4 linked regions of the Homo sapiens genome follow. The protein of the gene in region 4 interacts with the protein of the main gene of each other region in a biochemical or structural test. Each region holds a gene or a part of one and is shown on either strand. Other genes may lie near its edges.

The links. Proteins that work in one complex are often made in the same cells at the same time.
Region 1: the proteins of FLOT1 (region 4) and ARG1 form a complex in vitro, tested with the Homo sapiens proteins (one study listed by IntAct).
Region 2: the proteins of FLOT1 (region 4) and SORBS1 form a complex in vitro, tested with the Homo sapiens proteins (2 studies listed by BioGRID).
Region 3: the proteins of FLOT1 (region 4) and AURKB form a complex in vitro, tested with the Homo sapiens proteins (one study listed by BioGRID).

The regions. Positions count from the first base shown.
Region 1 is NC_000006.12:131,576,129-131,580,217, reverse strand, and holds part of ARG1 (arginase-1), read right to left. Parts: intron 3,556-4,089; coding exon 3,483-3,555; intron 1,132-3,482; coding exon of another isoform or gene 1,108-1,131; coding exon 933-1,107; intron 1-932. UniProt on the Homo sapiens protein: Key element of the urea cycle converting L-arginine to urea and L-ornithine, which is further metabolized into metabolites proline and polyamides that drive collagen synthesis and bioenergetic pathways critical for cell proliferation, respectively; the urea cycle takes place primarily in the liver and, to a lesser extent, in the kidneys.
Region 2 is NC_000010.11:95,337,380-95,341,468, forward strand, and holds part of SORBS1 (sorbin and SH3 domain-containing protein 1), read right to left. Parts: intron 4,032-4,089; coding exon 3,906-4,031; intron 1,949-3,905; coding exon 1,754-1,948; intron 1-1,753. UniProt on the Homo sapiens protein: Plays a role in tyrosine phosphorylation of CBL by linking CBL to the insulin receptor. Required for insulin-stimulated glucose transport. Involved in formation of actin stress fibers and focal adhesions.
Region 3 is NC_000017.11:8,203,742-8,207,672, forward strand, and holds the end of AURKB (aurora kinase B), read right to left. Parts: intron 3,885-3,931; coding exon 3,830-3,884; intron 3,630-3,829; coding exon of another isoform or gene 3,627-3,629; coding exon 3,435-3,626; intron 3,194-3,434; coding exon of another isoform or gene 3,148-3,193; coding exon 3,009-3,147; coding exon of another isoform or gene 2,999-3,008; intron 2,899-2,998; coding exon 2,750-2,898; intron 1,650-2,749; coding exon 1,475-1,649; intron 1,304-1,474; coding exon 1,130-1,303; 3' UTR 993-1,129; downstream 1-992. UniProt on the Homo sapiens protein: Serine/threonine-protein kinase component of the chromosomal passenger complex (CPC), a complex that acts as a key regulator of mitosis.
Region 4 is NC_000006.12:30,727,209-30,730,537, reverse strand, and holds the end of FLOT1 (flotillin-1), read left to right. Parts: coding exon 1-110; intron 111-351; coding exon 352-516; intron 517-2,392; coding exon 2,393-2,422; 3' UTR 2,423-2,829; downstream 2,830-3,329. UniProt on the Homo sapiens protein: May act as a scaffolding protein within caveolar membranes, functionally participating in formation of caveolae or caveolae-like vesicles.

The DNA.
Region 1 (4,089 bases), about 100 Mb from region 4:
AGAGGAAGCCAAGGAGACCTGAAGTCATTGACTGCTCAAGAGCCATAGAAGTGTTTCTACTTTTAGATCTAATCAGGCCTTTCTGGTAAAATTATCCTAGGCCTTGGGAGTAAATATTTAAAGAGGCTCATGCACAAAAATGGTCTTTGCCACATTATTTGTAATGGTGAAAATTATAATGCAACCTGAATATGCCGCAATATGTACGTATATAGCGATGTAACCCCTTGATGAAAAATCATGCAGCAATTAAAAAACTGATGCTTATGATGCTTATGCACATCCCATGAAGCAACAAGGAAATTTGCACTGTAGAGTGAGAACACAACATAGACATCTGTCTCTCTCTCTCTCTCTCTCACACACACACATACACACACACACACACGTTAAACAAAGTCATCATGTACAAGGAAAAAAAAGATGCCATGAAAGAAATGTGCCAGATTTTCAATTCTGGTTGAAATGGTTGCTAGAGAAGTACAATTACCACATTTTTTTTCTTGTGTGTGTGTGTCTGATGCTTTCAAAAATGTTATGATCATTACTTTTATAATGAAAAACACATGCTTTGAAATTGTTGACCTATATGAGTTGTATATATTATCGGCAATTAAGAACAAATAAGCTATGAATTGCCTCACATACTTATTTAGAAATGTAAGCTTGTGATGAATATTTAGATGAAATCCATTCATATTTCATACATTTTCTGCTGTACTAGGTCAAAATACAGATATTGTAAGACTTCAAATTGAGCGAAGTCTGTTTCTATAATAAAAGTAACCTATAAAATTTTTTTAAAGGCAGAAAATTTGATATAAAATATAGGTCAATGCTTTTCTGTCTATATTTCTAAATTTTCTCTCTTCTTATGGCCTTGGTTACTTCCTTTGTGCCAGATTCCCATAGACACAGTTATTCAACAAGACCTGTGGTCTCCGCCCAGCACCAGGCTGATTCTTCCGTTCTTCTTGACTTCTGCCACCTTGCCAGCCAGCTGCTCGCTTGCTTTTCCCACAGACCTTGGATTCTTCACAATTTGAAAGGGACTGTCATTAGGGATGTCAGCAAAGGGCAGGTCCCCATAATCCTTCACATCACACTCTAAAATTAAAAAGTTTTGAGTTACTAAATTAAAAAGTAGATTATAAATCAGTCTGTGTAGGATGATCTCAATTGTATAAAATAGGCATATATTCACAAGTATAAGCAAAGGAAAAACCTGAAAGGTCTGTAAATCTTGGGAAGGTAGACCCATGTCTGCTTTTGCTTGACGTCATGTTACCAGTATCACACACTGGTGCGGCTGTATACTGGGCTCTCAGTGAACACTTCTTGAATCCATCCAGTTAAACTAGACACCAAAATGTAACAGTGATAATCTTCTGGTTTGGGCTTAATAGGGAATGCCACTGTCTCTGTCTCTGTCTCTCTGTCTCTCTCTGCTTATGTGCTTTTTACCTTTCTATAGTAAGCATGCTTCATTTTGATAATAATTAAATACATATATATCGGTATATATATGTATTCTCAGAAAATTTAGAAAGCACTGGTGTATTTTCATCTGGAGATACACACACACACAGACACACAAAGTATCCATTGAACCTGCCTCATAGTGGTATTATCATAAATAAATAAGAATATGTGAATATGTACTTAGCACTGAGCCTAACACTTTGGAAGCTTCGGAAATAAAGCTTTTTAGTTATTCTTTTTAGTAAGGAAAAATTGCAGGTAACCCCAAATTCCTAAGGACTGGGTGTGCTCCCTAAAAGGCCTTGAATTAGGCTTGAAAAGTAGAGAGTGTCATGTAAAACTGTGATTCAGTTCGGTGTTCTGAACTAATTGGCCATTAAATATGGTATTTGTTACATGTCTGTGTGAATCTGATTTAGTAACGCCTCCAAGAAATTTCACCTGATACAACACGTGACCAAATTATGCTTGTCAGTTAAGGGACAAGTCCATTACCCAAGCATTCTGTTCTCTACTGGGTGTCTGTATTTGTCTTTTTTTTTTTTTTTTAAAGATTTACGAAGTGTAATTCTTGTTCACTAAAACTCACTAATTTTAACTGTGCGGGTCAATGAGTTTGAAAAATTCCATCCTGCCCCTTTAGAGGTAATTCTTGCCCCCAACCCCAGGAACTGCTGATCTGCTTTCTTTTGCTATGCTTTTGTCTTTCCAGAATGTCGTATCAGTGGAATCATACATGTAGTCTTTCTTGTCTTATCATGCTGCTTTTGAGATCTACCATGTTTTTGCCTGTGTTTGCGGTCCATTCCTTTTTCTTTTTTTTTTTTTTTTGGAGATGGAGTCTCGCTCTGTCGCCCAGGTTGGGGTGCAGTGGCGCAATCTCAGCTCACTGCAACCTCTGCCTCCGGGTTCAAGCCATTCTCCTGCCTCAGCCTCCCAAGTAGCTGGGACTACAGGCTCATGCCACCACGCCCAGCTATTTTTTTTTGTATTTTTACTAGAGAAGGGGTTTCACTGTGTTGCCCAGGCTGGTCTTGAACTCCTGAGCTCAGACAGTCCACCCACCTTGGCTTCCCAAAGTGATAGGATTACAGGCCTCAGCCACCGTGCCCGACCAGTCCATTCCTTTTTATTGTTGAATACTATCTCGTTGCATGGATGTGACACTTTTTGTTTAACCATCTACCAGTTGATGGGCATTTTGCTGTTTCCATTTTTTGGTTATTATAAATATGGCTGCCCCCAAACATTCAAGCACAAATCTCTTACCCAAGAGAAATGAAAACATATCCACACAAAGACTTGTACTTGAATGTTTGTAGTTGTACTTCTCTGCACCCAGGAGTAGAACTGCTGGGTCAAAATGTAAATATATGTTTACCTGAGAAACTGCCCACCTACTTTCAAAGTGGCTGTATCATTTGCATTCCCATCAGAAATATATGAGGGTTCCAGTTTCTCCACATCCTGACCAACACTTTATCAGAATCTTATATGTAAAGGTAACAGAAAATTGAGCCCATACTTTAAAAATATACGTAAATTTGCATTTGCATGCTTATGTATATGTATGTATATATACACACTGCGCCCACACTAGGCGCTGTTGTTATTATCATTATTACTGTTTTATTTTATTTTATTTCACAAATAGGGGTCCTCTTGCTAGTAGCATACTTCCTGCTGCACCTTGCCTTCCATTTGCTGTTCCCCCGGCTCCCCTACCATCCACCCCAACCCCCGTTCTTGCACACACAATTTATCTTATACTGTAGTTTGGCTGGAAAGACAAAATATCTGAGTGAGGATGTACATCCAGCAATGTTTCCTGAGCATTCTCCCCATGCCCTGCTGCTTTTGTAGGATGTGTTTCTCGGGTTGTAACCAGTACCGCAATTCTGATGTAAATATTCCAGACACACTCCAGGTTCACAGGGGCCTGCTCTTTCCTTCAGAGTGGGGAGGAAATCAGGCTGATCATTTTTCAACTTAAAAATTACCTTGTTCTTTAAGTTTCTCAAGCAGACCAGCCTTTCTCAATACTGTAGGGCCTTCTTCCACCCCTCCTCGTGGCTGAACAATTAAAAAATAAAGTACTTCAGACATTATCATGACCATCAGATGCTCACAGCAGGAACCCTTTTCATTATTTAATCAGTTGAACTGTAACTATCATTTTTTGAGCTCCTACAGAGCCAGGAATTTACATCATCTCTTTTAATCTTCACAGCAAGGTAGACTGAATGACTTTTATGCCAAATAGAAAGAACTAGAATCACAAAGGTTATATGGTTTTCAGACTGGCACACAGCTAATAAGTGGCAGAGCCTATGTTCATATTCAGGTCTTTGGATTCCAAAACCTACATCCCCTCTTCCCGTCAAACCATGTTATCAACACAGTGAACAAGTAGTTTGTGCAAAAGCAGTCTGGTAGATGAGATCCAATAATGAAAAGGCTTTTGACTTTGAGTCCCTCATAAGCTGATAGGAGATATGGGCATTTAACTCCAGTTTCAATACATAGCTGCTTCAGTGATGATATAAAATGTCCTAGTAACAAAAACAGGATGCCCTTAACACTGTTGGGGACAGGGTGTGTCAGTAA
Region 2 (4,089 bases), on a different chromosome or scaffold from region 4:
ACAAGGGGTATATAAAGAGGAATGAAATGGAGAGGATGAGCAAGGACACTCTGGTGTCCAAAAAGGAAATCCTCAGGTTACATCTGGGGAGAAACCAGGATGGGTGAGTGTGCGTTTGAGCATGTGCGAGCGTGATCCTGATGTGTGCAGGCAGGGGGTGGAGGAAGCAGTGAGAGGTGTGGAGATGGGGAGAGGTTCCCGTCAGAGTAGTGACGGATGAGGCCGCCCTGCTTTGCAGAATCAGATTTTCAAAGGGACACATTGGAAGCTCCCCATCCCAGCCAACCCAGCCCCTGTGCATCCAGATCCCTGACCCGGAACCATACGGGGAAAGGTGGCCCCACACTGCCATGGCCCTTCCCTGGGGTTTTATTTTCTCTGGGAGCTCAGCAGAGTCTTCCAGAGAGGAGTATGAGTAGTGTACTAGTTTTGTTTTACAATCACTCTTGGCTAGTCAAGTGAAAAATGTAGTTGAGTTCCCTGCATCCTTACAAAGAAGAATGTCCCACTCCAGTCACACACTCTGTCCTATAAGACAACAGGATGCGGCTATCACTGTCCAGGAAGCCCTGGGTCAGCCCGTTTAATGCTTTCTGCCAAGAACCCTCTACTGGGGTCAGTGATGAGCAGGTGGCAGAGGAGGAAACAATTAGAGGACCAGACAAGAGGCACCATCTCAGGGTCAACCTGGGCCCCCAGGTCCTACTCTTGTTCCTCTGCCAACCTCCTTACAACATACATGGTGGTTTGTCCAGGCTCTTTCACAGGGATGTCACCCCCACCGTGTCACCCTGAACTCAAGGTTCTGACATTTTCTTGGCTTTGGGAAAGTGGGGATCAGTTAGGAATAGTTTATATTTCTAAACAAGTTTGTTCATAATTAATGTTTGGGAAAGCCAACATCTTATTACGCCTATAAACCTATATCCTTTCAGCCCACAGAGACTGAGATGCTGTAAGTTACTTGTTCCAATCACCTGGTTCCAGTGAATGCAAATAATACTTTGGATCTGGTCTATATGGCTGATGAGAAGGTGTAAGTCTCTCTTTCAGCCTTTGTCTTCTGCAGGTCAACTTTGGCCAAGATGACTGAGGACCGCATTTGGACCATGGGATTTATGACACAGTGGTGGTACCCACACCAACAGCTTCACCCAAGAGGGGCCAACTGATAAAGGCTCTTGTTTCTCTGTTTCTCTTTCCCTAGTCACCTTATTCCCAGAGCAATTACTTGACTATTCCTTTTCCCTTGAGATATATCTGCAACCAAGCACTGGAAAAGGCCATTTGTATGCATAAAGACAAAGTCCAGTGTACAGTCTGCTTTCCTGCAGTTTTTTTTTTTTTGAGATGGAGTCTCGCTCTGTCGTCCAGGCTGGAGTGCAGTGGCATGATCTCGGCTCACTGCAACCTCTGCCTCCCAGGTTTAAGCGATTCTCCTGCCTCAACCTCCCGAGTAGCTGGGACTACAGGCGCCCGCCACCACGCCTGGCTAATTTTTGAATTTTTGGTAGAGATGGGGTTTCACCATGTTGCCAGGCTGATCTTGAACTCCTGACCTCAGGTGATTCACCCGCCTCGGCCTCCCAAAGTGCTGGGATTACAGGCATGAGCCACCACACCCGGCCTCCTGCAGACAGTTTTTAATTGCAGTGCTCAAAAACCTCCCCAGAGAGGCTGTGTGCCATCAGCACTGTTGACTACAAAAATTCACATGCTGAGTATGAAAACCAGTGACGAGAAGCTTAGATACCTGTGGGCTTGCAGTGGCACTGCGACTTGGGGAGGAGGAGAAAGGCAGGTCCATGTAATCCACAGGGTTTTTCACCAGTGGTCGCTTGATCACATCCACGTAGGTGATGGGGAAGATGCCTTGTCGGGATGTCCCCGGGATCCTCCCTTCGTACCAGTTCTCATCTACCTGCCGGAGCAGTGTGATCCTCTCACCCTGGAAGACACAGCAAAGAGAGGGTCCTTGTCCTAGCATGCCTCTGCATGCCTGGGGCCTCTGCCTGCATGCTTCAATGTCCTGCATTGTTTATCACATCCTTAGCTCAGGAAAAACCTTCCCTGCTGAACCTGGAGGGAATTAACACCACTGGGATGAGGATGCTAATGGCAGAGGAGCTATCTTGATGCTGGGAAGTTCAGCTTGGTTCTTTAAGTATTTTAGTAAAGGAGAACATCAGATTTGTGTCCCTAAGCCAGGGAACAAATGTAGTGTTTTTGACTCATTTAATGTGAAACAGATACCCAATCTTCATTTCTAAGGCAAAGATTTTGGGGGGTTTCACTTTTTCTTTCTTTTGTAGCATTATAGATACTTATAATGTATCATTATAGAAAAATCAGAACACAAACGTAAAGCAGAAAACAATCATCACCCATCACATAGTCATTTGGGGATAAACACTTAATATTTGGCATATGGACTCCCCAGATTTACTTCTATGCATGTGAATTAAACCTGCACATATTTTTTCTTATAAAAATTGAGTATGAACTGTGTTTCCCTTTTCCAACTTGCTTTTTAAAAAATACTTAATAGCACATAGTAAACCTCCTTCTTTATCAAGAAATAGAATTCTAGATTTTTAATGGCATTGCATAGCTTAATGGACCACTGCAGGGTATTCTGTCGCACACACATATAATGATTTAATTACTGATCCCCTGCTGTTGGGCAACTGGGTTGCTTCCAGTGCTTTTTCTAACAATGTGCTCACTTCCCTCAAGCCTCAATAAAATCAGTAACTTAGTAACTTTAGCAAGCCAGAGAATTTTGCCATGTAGAGTGTTTGGATTCTGGAAAGAACAACTTCTCTGCACAATGTAATTATGTTCTGAATAAGCATGATGGTGATAATAATAATACTGGCATCTCCTGTTTACTAAGCACCAACAAGATACCATGTGTCATGCTGGGGGCTTCACATAAGTTGTTTCACCGAAGCCTCTTACAACCACCTAGGAGAGAGCCATCTATCTTCATTTTTTTTCTATAAGAAAATGGTGGCTTGGAAAAAGTATTTAACTCCCACATTCTGCGTAGTTGGTTTGTGCCTTTTGGGTTCAAAGCTTTTCAAACTTCTCCTGGTATCAATGGACCTGTTTTTTCCACTAGGTCACACCAATATATTGTAAAACCCAGTCCCCAACACAATGCATTATGACATCATTAGTTGGTAAGTGTTGGTTGAAAACAGCTTATAAAAGATGTCTAAGACTCCAGAAATACTATGTTTAATCAGTGAGCTCAATATAGTTAAACCCTGATATTAGCCTAGGGTTTATTTTAAAAATACCTTACCTCAGAAAATTCTCCAATTGCCCTTAATGCAATTCTTTTTTTTTTTTTCTTCAGTAGAGATGGGGCCTTGCTACGTTGCTCAGGCTGGTCTTGAACCCCTGGCCTTAAGCGAGCCTCCTGCCTTGGTTTCCCAAAGTGCTGGGATTACAGGCCTTAATGCAATTCTTTTTTTTTTTTTTGGAGACCTATTGCCCAGGCTGGAGTGCAGTGGAGCGATCTCAGCTCACTGCAACCTCTGTCTCCCAGGTTCAAATGATTCTCCTGCCTCAGCCTCCTGAATAGCTGGGATTACAGGAACCCACTACCATGCCCAGCTAATTTTTGTATTTTTAGTAGAGACGGGGTTTCACCATGTTGGCCAGGCTAGTCTCAAACGCCTGACCTCAAGTGATCTACCCACCTCGGCCTCCCAAAGTGCTGGGATTACAGGCATGAGCCACCGTGCCCAGCCCTTAATGCAATTATTGATTGGCATACTTCTCTTAAGGGTACAGACAGCACCCCCAGACTGGGGTGTGATAGCAACACCACGCTTCCCCACATAGCTGCGCCATCCAAGAGAGCCCCAAAGCAAGGCATGAGAAGTGCAGCTTACCTTTCTGAAGGACATTTCTACTTGTGTATCACCATTAAAGTTAAACTTAGCAATAGCTTCTCCATATTCCAAAACCTGCACTGGTGTCAACTTTTTGGGCTGTGCCTTCTCAGCAGGAGGAAGAAGCTGAGAAAGGGAAAGAGGTAAAAGAGAACAAGGGAAGAGAAGAAAGCAGGGAAACAAG
Region 3 (3,931 bases), on a different chromosome or scaffold from region 4:
TGAGGCAGGAGAATAGCTTGAACCTGAAAGGAGGTTGGAGGTTGCGGTGAGCCAAGATCGGGCCACTGCACTCCAGCCTGCATGACAGGGTGAGACTCCGTCCTGCTGTGTAGCCAGGCTGGAGTGCATTGGTGCGATCTGGTCTTGCTGCAGCCTCCACCTCCCGGGTTCAACCGATTCTCCTGCCTCAGCTTCCTGAGTAGCTGGGACTACAGGTGTGCACCACCACGCTCAGCTAATTTTTGTATTTTTAGTAGAGATGGGATTTCACCATGTTGGCCAGGATGGTCTCGATCTCCTGACTTTGTGATCTGCCTGCCTCGGCCTCTGAAAGTGCAGGGATTACAGGCATGAGTCACTGCGCCCAGACTTAACTGTTTTTTTGTTTTTGTTTTTTTTTTTAAAGACTCTGAGTAAACTATGAGTAGAATAGGCCCTGTTTAACCTGATAAAGGGTATCTATCAAAAACCTACAGCAAGCATCATGCATAACAGTGTAACCTCATGTCAGGAACAAGACAGAATCACTGCTGCTTCTATTGGCTCCTGTACTAGATCCTGACCAGAGCAGTGAAATAATCAAAGACAGCTTCTAGGGTACAGAACTGTTTAGTTGCTCCTACGTTGGCAAAGGGGCAGAGAATGAAACAGAAAAGGAAAAACTAGAAGTTGGACAACCAAGAGAGAGGTGAAAGAAGGTGGCCAGAGATGGCTGGTGTTCCAATGTAGCAATGGGGAGCCAGGGCCCCCAGTGCCCCTGGGCTGTGGGAGTCTGAGCAACGGAAAGAATAGACAGTGAGGGTAGAGGTGGAAGTGGGGGTAGGGGTTGGGGTGGCTGGGAGCTGACCAGGTGGGTGTCAGAGCTGAGAGGGTAGGGTGTTACCAGGGATAGCAAAGTAATGCTCATCCCGGCTCCTCAGGGTGAGCCAGCTCTCCTTCTAGGGAACAGCTTCCTCCACAGCAAAGCCTCCACCTAGAAACATCTACACTCATGAGTACAAAAAGCTTCAGCCTTTATTAAACAAAGGAGGAGGTAGAAAACAGATAAGGGAACAGTTAGGGATCCCTTCTTTCCCCTATACATACACAGACATACAAACACACGCACCCGAGTGAATGACAGGGACCATCAGGCGACAGATTGAAGGGCAGAGGGAGGCAGCACCCTCCGAGAGTTGGCCCGGACCCAAGGGTGGGCTGAGACCTGGGCCAGGGGCAGCCGTTCCGAGGGGTTATGCCTGAGCAGTTTGGAGATGAGGTCCTGGGCTCCCATGGGCACGGAAGCGGGGAACTTTAGGTCCACCTGCAGGTGTGAAGAGATGGAAGGGCTGCATTAGTTTCACCCTGGCTACATCTTCCTTGACTACCCATTCTGTTTGGAGTTACTTAGGGCCATGCAAATACACTCTGCCCACCCCCAGCCCCCCAGCTCCTGGCTTCAGCAGCTGGCACGAAGCCCAGGCCGCCCTCCCACCTTGACGATGCGGCGATAGGTCTCGTTGTGTGATGCACTCTCAAAGGGTGGGTTCCCCACCAGCAGCTCATAGCAAAGCACTCCAATGCACCACAGATCCACCTTCTCATTGTGCATGCGCCCCTCAATCATCTCTGGGGGCAGGTAGTCCAGGGTGCCACACATTGTCTTCCTCCTGGGAGGGATAAGGGGCGTGGGCAGGGGTCCTAGTGACATAGGAACTCTCCTTTCCCTGCTGCCTGACGGCTGGGAGCCAAAAGACCACGGGATGTACCAGGGGAGAGGTCCAGCCAGGCAAGGCCACTGGAGTGGGGGTGGGGTTGGGGTGATGATATATCCCAAAGCCCCAGAGGTGAGCCTGCACACAGCCCAGCAACTCCACACTGAAGGATATATCTTAATAAGATACCCTGATATGAGGGCAGTGTTCATTTGGAGTTCACTGGGGACATCTCTAATGCCCATCAGGCATGTTCTGGTTAAATAAATCAGCTACTATGTGATACTATGAAACCATTAAAAAGTGATGTGGGAGGAAAAAAGGCCACTGCTCCGGGCTTTTTTTGAGAGAGTCCAGGCTGGAGTGCAGTGGGGCGATCTTGGCTCACTGCAACCTCTGCCTCCCGGGTTCAAGTGATTCTCATGTCTCAGCCTCCCGAACAGCTGGGATTACAAGTGTGCACCACCATGTCTGCTTAATAAATTTTGTGTTTTTAGTAAAGATGGGGTTTCATCATGTTGGCCAGGCTGGTCCGCTGGTCTTGAACTCCTGGCCTCAAGTGATCCACCCGCCTTGGCCTCCCAAAGTGCTGGGACTGGTAGGCGTGAGCCACCGCGCCTGGCCAAAGTTTTACCATTGGCCCCTACAGGGATCAAACCTGCGACCTTGGGGTTATTAGCACCACACTCTAACCATTTTTTTTTTTTTTTTTTGAGACAGAGTCTCGATCTGTCACACAGGCTGGAGTGCAATGGCGTAATCTCGGCTCACTGCAACCTCCGCCTCCCAGGTTCAAACAATTCTCCTGCCTCAGCCTCCCCAGTAGCTGGGATTACTGGCGTCCGCCACCATGGCCGGCTAATTTTTGTATATTTAGTAGAGACAAGGTTTCATCATGTTGGCAAATCTAGTCTCGAACTCCTGACCTCAGGTGATCCGCCCTCCTCGGCCTCCCAAAGTGCTGGGATTACAGGTGTGAGCCACGGTGCACGGCCCCTGGAGAGGTTTTAATGGCCCAGCCTCACACCCAGGTCTGGCCTCCCAGGCCACCATACCTCAGGGAGGGCGCATGCACAGACCAGCCGAAGTCAGCAATCTTCAGCTCTCCCTTGAGCCCTAAGAGCAGATTTTCTGGCTTTATGTCTCTGTGAATCACCTTCTTCCCATGGCAGTACATTAGAGCATCTGCCAACTCCTCCATGATCTGGGAGGGGCAACGACAGGCAATCAGACAAGGATGGACCTCCAGCTACAAGCAGCACACCCTCAGCCTCGAGCCCCCTACTGGCGCCCCAGGTGCCCACCCGCCCGGACCGTGGCTGTTCGCTGCTCGTCAAATGTGCAGCTCTTCTGCAGCTCCTTGTAGAGCTCCCCGCGGGGGGCATACTCTAGAATCAAGTAGATCCTCCTCCGGTCATAAAAATAGTTGTAGAGACGCAGGATGTTGGGATGGCTGGGGGAAGAGACAGAGGAGGCCTCAGGCCAAAGGCATAAAAGAGCTGGAAAAGATGATAGGAGCAAACTGGGGTCAGACGTGGCCCAGGCCGGGGACACCAGGGCTGGGAGTGGTAAGGGGAAACTGGAGGCAGATTTCTGGATTCAAGGCTTGCCAGGACTAAGAGCTAAATGGGGCTCACTAGCCATAGCTACAGAGAAAGCAATCTGGATGAAGTGGGGCTGAATGAGGAGCTGGGGGTGAGGGAGCAGAGGGGCTTCGGCTCAGGGGGCATCAACCCATACTGCAGGTGGGCCTGGATTTCGATCTCTCTGCGCAGCTGATGCTCCACGCCCTCCTTCTCTATCTGGGACTTGAAGAGGACCTTGAGCGCCACGATGAAATGGCTTTTCTTCTCCCGAGCCAAGTACACGTTTCCAAACTTGCCTTTGCCCAGAGGACGCCCAATCTCAAAGTCATCAATTGTGAAGTGCCGCCTGCTTAGAAAGTGGAGGAAGGCAACTCAGAACCGGTTTTGGTTATTAAGAGGTTTGCTTTCTCTCTGCTTCCTCATCCCATCCTGTCCTCCGCCCCACTTGTCTTCATCCCTACTCCTCCCGTGCTTAGGTTTTATCTCCCCGACTTCCTGCCTGTTCATTGTCCCCTCACCCCCGTCCACCCCCAGGCTTGGGGCACTTACGTTAAGATGTCGGGTGTCCCACTGCTATTCTCCATCACCTTCTGGCCAGGGGCAGCTAAGGAGAGAACAGGTAGGTTGAATGCGAACAGGGATGACCTTCTC
Region 4 (3,329 bases):
TAGGGGCCCGAGCCCGAGCCGAGGCTGAGCAGATGGCCAAGAAGGCAGAAGCCTTCCAGCTGTACCAAGAGGCTGCTCAGCTGGACATGCTGCTAGAGAAGCTGCCCCAGGTCTGGAGGTCATGTGGGCACCAAGAAAGGAGGAAATAGAACCAGGGACTAAGGGGTGGGGTGTAGTGAGGGGCTTAGGGAGAAACAGCCTAGGGGGACTCTAAATTAGGGGTGGGAATTATTAGTGACCAAAGTGAGGAAGGATGATCAGTGGAACGAGGACCTTAAAACCCAGAGTAAGTTGTTTTATGAGGAATGTGGTCAGATCATGGGCACTGAGTGGGTGTCTCTCTCCTGCCAGGTGGCAGAGGAGATCAGTGGTCCCTTGACTTCAGCCAATAAGATCACACTGGTGTCCAGCGGCAGTGGGACCATGGGGGCAGCCAAAGTGACTGGGGAAGTACTGGACATTCTAACTCGCCTGCCAGAGAGTGTGGAAAGACTCACAGGCGTGAGCATCTCCCAGGTGAGGTCTCAGGTTGGAGCTGAGGAGAATTGCTAGGTTCCTGTGTTGTGTGACACAGTATGCCTAGCATTTAACCAGCATCCAGGCCTGGGAGTCATTGATGTTTATTAATCACTTTCTGTGTGCCAGACACAGTGCTAAGCTTCTACATAAATGAGTTGTTTTAAATCAAACTACCATTAGGGTATATAGGATTTTACAAAGTCCAGAAACTCAACATCCAGCATGTTCCTACTCATTCTGCTAGTGCAGCTGGAGTGAAATCCAGGTCGACTGTCTCTGCAACCTGTGCTTGTGGTCACCCCACTAGTATAGGGAACTAGTTGCAGCCTATTGACAGTTAATTAATTCTAGGGCATATCACTGCTTTTCTCAGCGCCCCAGTTAATTCACCTGTAGATCATGGTAGAAGTCAGCAAACAGGCTCTGGAACCACTGTTTTGTTGCGAATCCTAGCTACAATGCCTGCTAGCTGTAATCTTGGACAAGTAATCAACCTCTCTATACCTGTTTCCTCATCTTAAAATTGGGTTAATAATTAGAAACTACCCTGTTGAATTGTTGAGGGGCTCGAGCAAATATTTGCAGTGTTTAGAATAGTGCCTGGTATATAGTAAGCATTATGTGTATGTTAAAGAAATGGGGCCAGGTGCAGTGGCTTACGCCTGTAATCCCAGCACTTTGGGAGGCTGAGGCAGGCAGATCACCTGAGGTTAGGAGTTGGAGACCAGCCTGGCCAACATGGTGAAACACCATCTTTACTAAAAATACAAAAAAAAATTAGCCAGGCTTGGTGGTGCATGCCTGTAATCTCAGCTACTCGGGAAGCTGAGGCAGGAGAATTGCTGGAACCCAGGAGCCGAAGGTTGCAGTGAGCTGAGATCACACCACTGCACTCCAGCCTGGGTGACAGAATAAGACTCTATCTCAAAAAAAAAAAAAAATTCCAGGCGCGGTAGCTCATGCCTGTAATCCCAGCACTTTGGGAGGCTGAGGCGGGCGGATCACGAGGTCAGGAGATTGAGACCATCCTGGCTAACACAGTGAAACCCCGTCTCTACTAAAAATACAAAACAGCCGGGCGTGGCGGTGTGTGCCTGTAGTCCCAGCTGCTGGGGAGGCTGAGGCAGGAGAATGGTGTGAACCTGGGAGGCAGAGCTTGCAGTGAGCCGAGATAGCACCACTGCACTCCATCCTAGGCAACAGAGCAAGACTCTGTCTCAAAAAAAAAAAGAGAAAGAAATGCATATTCGGGCTGGGTGCTGTGGCTCACACTTGTAATCCCAGAACTTTGGGAGGCCAGGGTGGACGATCAGCTGAGGTCAGAAGTTTGAGATCACCCTGGCCAACATGGTGATACCCCATCTCTACCAAAAATACAAAAATTAGCTGGGTATGGTGGCGCATACCTGTAATCCCAGCTACTCGGGAGGCTGAGGCAGGAGAATCACTTGAACTCAGGAGGCGGAGGCTGCAGTAAGCCAAGATCGCACCACTGCATTCTAGCCTGGGTGATAGAGTGAGATTCCGTCTCAAAAAAAAAAAGAAAAAAAAAAAGCGTATGTAAATAAAAGCACTGGATCATACCAATGACCTTCAAGCTGGGTTCCTTGGAGCCTCCTGGAGGCCTGCAGTAGAATATTCAGAGCTAAGGAGAGTGTGCAAACAAGGCTCTGCCCCCTCTCCTCTCTTCAGTGATTTATTGTATGTGGGTCCTGATGTCTTTGTTTGGGGAAACAGGTGGTAGGGCACCAGAAAGAACCCTGGCCGTGTGTGTTCTGCCTATAGCCCATTCGTCTAAACTGGGGCCCGGGAGAGTAGGGGCCTCAGCCTCCCGAATGTTCCCAAGTGTCATCTACTGTTGTCTTTTTGCCAGGTGAATCACAAGCCTTTGAGAACAGCCTGAGCCTTCAGCCCTCACAGATGCCCAGCCTCATAGCTGAAGTTGCCTGAATGATCCTCCTGTTGCATGTAACCCACTGGCCTCCCTGAGCATGTCCATTGACAGTGAGGTCCCACCCCTCATCTCTCCTTGCCAAATAGTTTGTGCCTTGTCTTGAAGGGGGTTGCTCCCCTTGCCAACCTCACACTGCTATGATTGCCAACTCCAGCGGTCCCATGTCAGCCTTCTGATGATCCCACTCCACCCCACCTCAACTTATTTAACTTCCTAATTAAATCAGACTGTTTGAGCCTGTTGTCTAGAATATTTTCCTGACCAAGACTGAGGGATGGGCTGGAGGTTTTCAACTTTGCTACCCAAATAAATTGCTGTAAGTAAGTACTAATAAAACAGAAGCAACTGGAAATTAATGCTTGGCCCGGCACAGTGGCTCATGCCTGTAATCCCAGCACTTTGGGAGGCCAAGGCAGGCAGATCATCTGAGGTCAGGAGTTCAAGACCAGCCTGGCCAACATGACGAAACCTTGTCTCTACCAAAAATACAAAAATTAGCCAGGCAGGGTGAAACATGCCAAGTAGTAGTCCCAGCTACTTGGGAGGCTGAGGCAGGAGAATTACTTGAACCTGGGAAGCAGAGGTTGCAGTGAGCCAAGATCGCACCACTGCACTCTAGCCTAGGTGACAGAGTGAGACTGTTTCAAAAAAAAAGAGAAAAAAAATGAATGCTAGACTCAGGTATGGTGACTCTTGCCTATAGTCCTAGCTACTTGGGAGGCTAAGGTGGGAGGATCACTTGAGCTCAGGAGTCTAAGGCTGTAGTGAGCCATGATCACACCACTGCATTCCAGCCTGGGTGACAAAGCAAGATCCTGGCTCTATTAGAAAGAAAATGAATGCTAGAATGTAGCTT